2 separate regions of the Homo sapiens genome follow, and region 1 is linked to region 2. The links come from fine-mapping of genetic effects on gene expression. Tissue or cell type: fibroblasts. Region 2 holds a variant in brackets; the other region holds the start of a gene. All regions are shown on one strand. Distances are from middle to middle.

Region 1 (2,500 bases), 310 kb after region 2:
ACTTCCTGGAAAGTGCTGGCTCCCCATCCTCCTTCGAGAACTAAAGACAAGAAAACATATGTATCTTTAAACAGCCTATTGTTTTATCTCTTTTATTCTATGAAATAAAAAATTTAATACACAAATACTTTAAGCAAAATTTGCTTATAGTAAAAATTCAAGTAATAAAATTCAAATAATAGAAAGCAAAAAAATCCCACCCGTTCAACATTTCACGAGTCTTGAACACCTGTTTCCTTTGCACCCGACTTCATTAGGCTCGGAGGCCAAGCAGAACCCACAGAAAGGCTTGCCATTGTGGGAACACCCAGGCTGTCCCATTCACACACCCATTGACTTTTCCCTATAACTGTCTCCTTGAGACAAGAAATGTTCCAAAAGGGCCGGGTGCGGTGGCTCACGCCTGTAATCCCACCACTTTGGGAGGCCGAGGAGGGCGGCTCACCTGAGATCAGGAGTTCAAGACCAGCCTGGCCAACATGGTGAAACCCGGTCTCTACTAAAAATACAAAAATTAGCCGGGCGCCAGTAATCCCAGCTACTCGGGAGGCTGAGGCAGGAGAATGGCTTAAGCCCAGGAGGCGGAGGTTGCAGTGAGCCGAGATCGCGCCACTGCACTCCAGCCTGGGTGACACAGCGAGACTATCTCCCCCCGCAAAAAAAAAAAGTTTCCAAGAGCGTCTCTCCAATGTTAGTCCCAGCCTGCACCCTTCTTCCATCCCTGCTTTCACTCGCGACCCTCTAATGCAGCCCTGCCTCCAGCGACCCCCGGGATGGAACCCCTCGCCCACCCACAAAAGAGCAGCCTCGACCTAGACCCACTTTCCAGGGAATGAGCCCTGCGCCTGCGCGCACCCCGCCACCCCCTCCAGGCCGGAGTCCACGCCCACTTGGGGGAGGAGCCCCGCAGCCTCCACCTACAGGGGCGTCCCCTAAGGGGACGGAGGCCGCATGGGCCGCCGAGCCGGGAAATCTCCGCCCCCAGCTGGAGCGGCTGTGCGGGCTGCGTAGCGGTGCTGGGTCGGGCCGACGTGCCACCCACCCGGAGCCGGTGAGTGCAGCCGCCCGCCCTCCGGTAGATCTGCGGCCTGGCGGAGAAGTCGGGAGGGGACAGGAAGGGAGGGCGGGCCCCGGGCCCTCCTCCGTCTCAGCCGCCTGCGGAGGTGCTGCCCACGCCTGGAGGCCCCCACTGACCCTCAGACCCGCGTCTGCGCCCCTCTCCCCGCACCCCGAGGCAGAGTTGGGAAAGCAGTGGTCTTAGACCCCCCACCTCGGGCACTCGGAAGAGAACGGCGGAGACAACCCCTCCTCTTCCCTGGCTGGCGCAGCGCCAGCCTCGAGCTCCTCGGTAGCCCCCGGGCAGGGAGGGCCGGAGGGTGGGCGCGGCATCTTCAGCGACTCTTCGAAGTCCCTTCCGCGTCTCATCTTTCAAGGCTGTTGCAGAGGCGGCTTGCTTCCCACCTGTCCATCTCCATAAAAATCCCTAAACGAAACATGCCCACGTGTCCGGAGATTTTCAGGACTTGGTGCATTTCAGATGAAGGCTTTTCCAGAAGCTTCCCCGTAGAAGAGGATCAGGCATCCAACTGGTTAAGGTCAGCAGCGTTTGGCACGTCTCCTTCCAGCCTGGCGGTTTTGTCAGGATTCCCTGGGGAGTGTCTGGAAAGCCTGATGAGGGGAAATAGTACATCTCAGCGAATCGGCACCAGCGAGTGTAAGATGCGCGTTATTGAATGTGCTGCTGCCGAATATGAGAATGCCGAGATTGTGAGCCGTCACCATTTCTTAGATTTTAAAAGTATTCTAAAATGTTTTTTAGAATCACTGAAATATAATAGCTACCCCCTGCCCGATATCTACTTAGTTCTTTTCGATTTTCATCATAACTTATAGAGAGGCTGGTGCAGGAACAGGTGGTTAGGCAGCTGCCCCGGGTGAGGCTGGGAGTCTCCTCTGCCCGAACAGCCCGGGTGTACACCACTCAGACTGCCTCATGTAGGCGGCTGTCAGTGGACTGGGATGATTTGGGGGCAGGGAGAGTAGAGGTGGCCCTGGGAGCCCTGCGTGGTGATTAGAACAGAACCACAGCTGTTTCTCGGGGATCAGAGATAACTGTCTGTAGCTATGCCGGGCTTACCTACGTGGCTGGGGGTCTCACTTATGATTCTGAGCTCTGTCTGCGTGTTGGTCGTTTCATGCACACCTCCCCCACGCTAGTGGTCGGCGGTCCTGGAGGGCGGCATCTGGTCCCTTCAAAAGTGGGAAATAAGTCGGCAGCAGTGGGTCAGAATGGCTGTTTTTTGAGAGCGGGAGCAGGGGGACAGAGAAAGTCAGGAGGTGTTAGAGGTTCACAGTCCAGGCAAAAAGTAACAAAGGCCAGCTCCTGGTGTGGCAGGTGCCGCTCAGGAATAAAGTGGATGGTGCCCATGATGTGCTGCCTAGCACACTGTTGGTGCTTAATAAGTGTTTGCTGCATGAAGAAAGGTAAGAGGGGCTGCCT
Region 2 (2,847 bases):
TCTTGGGGGATGGGATGTCTTTAGTGCCGGCCTCACCTTCTTGACCCCGACACCGTCTGGGTTGCCCATGGCTCTGCTGCCAAAGCCAGGGTGGGCTTGGCTGGAGAGCGGAGGCCCACGTGTGTGTGCAAAGCGCTCTGTTTCCTCTGCTGAGCCTGCTGTGTGTGTCACCAAGCCTAAAACTCCACATCAGAGAGACTCGTGGCTTCACTCAAGGACAGCATCTCCTGATTCCTCCGTCAACACCTGTCTGGTGCAGGGGTGGCAGGAAGAGGCATCTCCACTCTACCTTGCCCTGATGTTGCGGTTTCAGCCAGGCCAGGCCCATCAGTAGAGGGCACAGCCCTGATTTCAACCGGAGACAAAGGCAGGGGCCATGAGCTGGGACCTGCGGTGGCTTCAGAGGCCAGAGAACAGTGAGGCCAGCCCCACAGCCAAGGGAGTGCAGAGGCTCTAAGGGGTTTCATACACAGAAAATTCAGGGTGGTGCAGGGCAAAGCTCATGCCTGCATCTTTTCCTTTTGTTTTCTGAAAAGGCAAATCCCTTTGTTCTGGGTGAGTAAGAGGTTAGGAGGTCTGGGACATGGCTCCACAGTCGGCCTAGGGAGGCGAGCCTGGGGTGTGCAGGCTTTTCTGCCCGGGTTTAATCAGAAACCCAACACTTATCTCACCCAGAGGACCAGACAGGACTGGGCTGGCCTCTGGCTGGGCTCAGCACTGACCAGGTGGCAGCCGAGAGGACAGGGACACAGCCCTGGGCCCCACAGAGCTGCTGCCGGGAGCCAGGCTGCCCTAGTGGTCCCCTCCTCCTCCGGGGTTGCCATGGCAACTGAGCAGGAGGGACCCTGCTGTCTAGCCCTGGCGCTCATCTCTTGCCTTTCCAGCCTCATCTGCATTCCAAGCCTTGGTCAGAGCCGGTGTCAGGAGCCCTGACATGGAGATGACATCCTGCCGAGACCTGACCCCGGCCCCAGTGCTGCACGTGGCAGGGATGGGTTGCTGGGATATGTGTGTGTGCGTGTGTGTGTGTGTGACTGTGGTGGGGTTGTTGCCTTGCTGAGTGTGGGTGGTGGTTGCCTTGCTCTGTGTGTGTGTGTGACTGTGGTGGGGTTGTTGCCTTGCTGTGTGAGTGTGGGTGGTGGTTGCCTTGCTCTGTGTGTGTCTGGGGGGGGTGGTTACCCTCCTGGGTGTGTGTGAGTGTGGGGGGTGGTTGCCTTGCTGTGTATGAGTGTGAGGAGTGTGAGTGTGGGATGGTTGCCTTGCGTGAGTGTGATTGTGAGTGTGGGGGGTGGCTGCTCTGCTGGGTGTGTGTGAGTGTGGGGGGTGGCTGCTCTGCTGGGTATGTGTGAGTGTGGGGAGTGGTTGCCCTGATGGGTGTGTGAGTGTGAGTGTGTGGGGTGGTTGCCCTGCTGGGTGTGTGAGTCTGAGTGTGGGGGGTGGTTGCCTTGCTTTGAGTTTGAGTGTGGGATGGTTGCCTCACCTGAGTGTGAGTGTGCAGGGTGGTTGCTCTGCTG[G/GGTGT]GTGTGAGTGTTGGGGGTGGTTGCCTTGCTGTGTGTGAATGTGAGTGTGGGTGTGGGGGATGGTTGCTCTGCGGGGTGTATGAGTGTGTGAGTGTCGGGGGTGGTTGCCTTGCTGTGCATGAGTGTGAGTGTATTGGGGGTGGTTGCCCTGCTGGGGTTGTGTGAGTGTTGGGTGGTTGCCTTGCTGTGTATGAGTGTGAGTGTGAGGGTTGGTTGCCTTATGGGTATGAGTGTGAGTGTGGGGTGGTTGCCTTGCAGAGTGTGAGTGTGAGTGTGAGGGGTGGTTGCCCTGCTGGGTGTGCGTGAATGTGGGGTGGTTGCCTTGCTGTGAGTGAGTGTGGGGGGTGGTTGCCTTCTGGGTATGAGTGGGAGTGTAGGGTGGTTGCCCTGCTGGGTATGAGTGTGAGTGTGGGGTGGTTGCCTTGCTGTGTGTGAGTGTGAGTGTGGGAGGTGGTTGCCTTGCTGTGTGTGTGTGTGAATGTGGGAGGTGGTTGCCTTGCTGTGTGTGTGTGTGAATGTGGGGGGTGGTTGCCTTGCTGTGTGTGTGTGTGAATGTGGGGGGTGGTTGCCTTGCTGTGTGAGTGTGAGTGAGTGTGGGGGGTGGTTGCCTTGCTGTGTGTGTGAGTGTAAGGGTTGGTTGCCTTGTGGGTATCAGTGTGAGTGTGAGGTGGTTGCCCTGCTGGGTGTGTATGGGTGTGAGTGTGGGGTGGTTGCCCTGCTGGGTGTGTGTGTGGGGTGGTTGCCCTGCCTGGTGTGTGTGTGAGTGTGGGGGGTGGTTGCCTTGCTGGGTGTATGAGTGTGTGAGTGTGGGTACTTGCCCTGCTGTATGTGTGAGTGCTTGGGGGGTGGTTGCCCTGATGGGTGTGTGAGTGTGAGTGTGGGGGCTGGCTGCCCTGCTGGGTGTGTGAGTGTGAGTGTGGGGGGTGGTTGCATTGCTGGGTGGATGAGTGTGAGAGTGTGGGTAGCTGCCCTGCTAGGTGTGTGAATATACGAGTGTGAGGTGGTTGCTCTATTGGGTGTGTGCTCTGGGTATGGCTAGGGCTGAGTTAGTGACATGTGCAGAGCTGTTAGGGATGTAGGTGTGGCTGGGTAAGAGACATGGGCGGGGCTGGGTGAAGGACGTGGGTGGTGCTGGATTAGGGGAGTGCGGCTGGCTAAGGGAAGTGAGTGGGGCTGGGTTAGGGACGTGGGTGGGGCTGGGTTAGGGAAGTGGGCAGGGCTGAGTTAGGGAAGTGAGTTGGGCCCTGGGTTAGGGAAATGGGGGGATTGGGTTCGGGAAGTGGGTGGGGCTGGATTAGGGGTATGAGCGGGGCTGGGTTAGGGAAGTGGGCGG

What was found. PIP is the estimated chance that this variant, and not a neighbour inherited with it, causes the effect.
Region 1: NEIL2 starts here. The variant in region 2 is fine-mapped to the expression of NEIL2 in fibroblasts (GTEx, PIP 0.94).

The regions. Positions count from the first base shown.
Region 1 is chr8:11,768,741-11,771,240 of GRCh38, forward strand. NEIL2 (nei like DNA glycosylase 2) reads left to right here and starts at 970. Exons shown (of 5, transcript NM_145043.4): 1 at 970-1,595. It overlaps LOC124901888 (a long non-coding RNA gene), which reads right to left. Exons shown (of 2, transcript XR_007060824.1): 1 at 2,138-2,500; 2 at 62-1,668. RefSeq lists silencers at 781-1,190, 1,231-1,360 and an enhancer at 1,120-1,620.
Region 2 is chr8:11,454,122-11,456,968 of GRCh38, forward strand. The region is part of intron 1 of FAM167A (family with sequence similarity 167 member A); the gene reads right to left. Among named protein-coding and RNA genes, the nearest start is that of FAM167A, 11 kb to the right of the region's middle. RefSeq lists a silencer at 2,687-2,786. The variant G/GGTGT (reference allele first, on the strand shown) is at 1,515.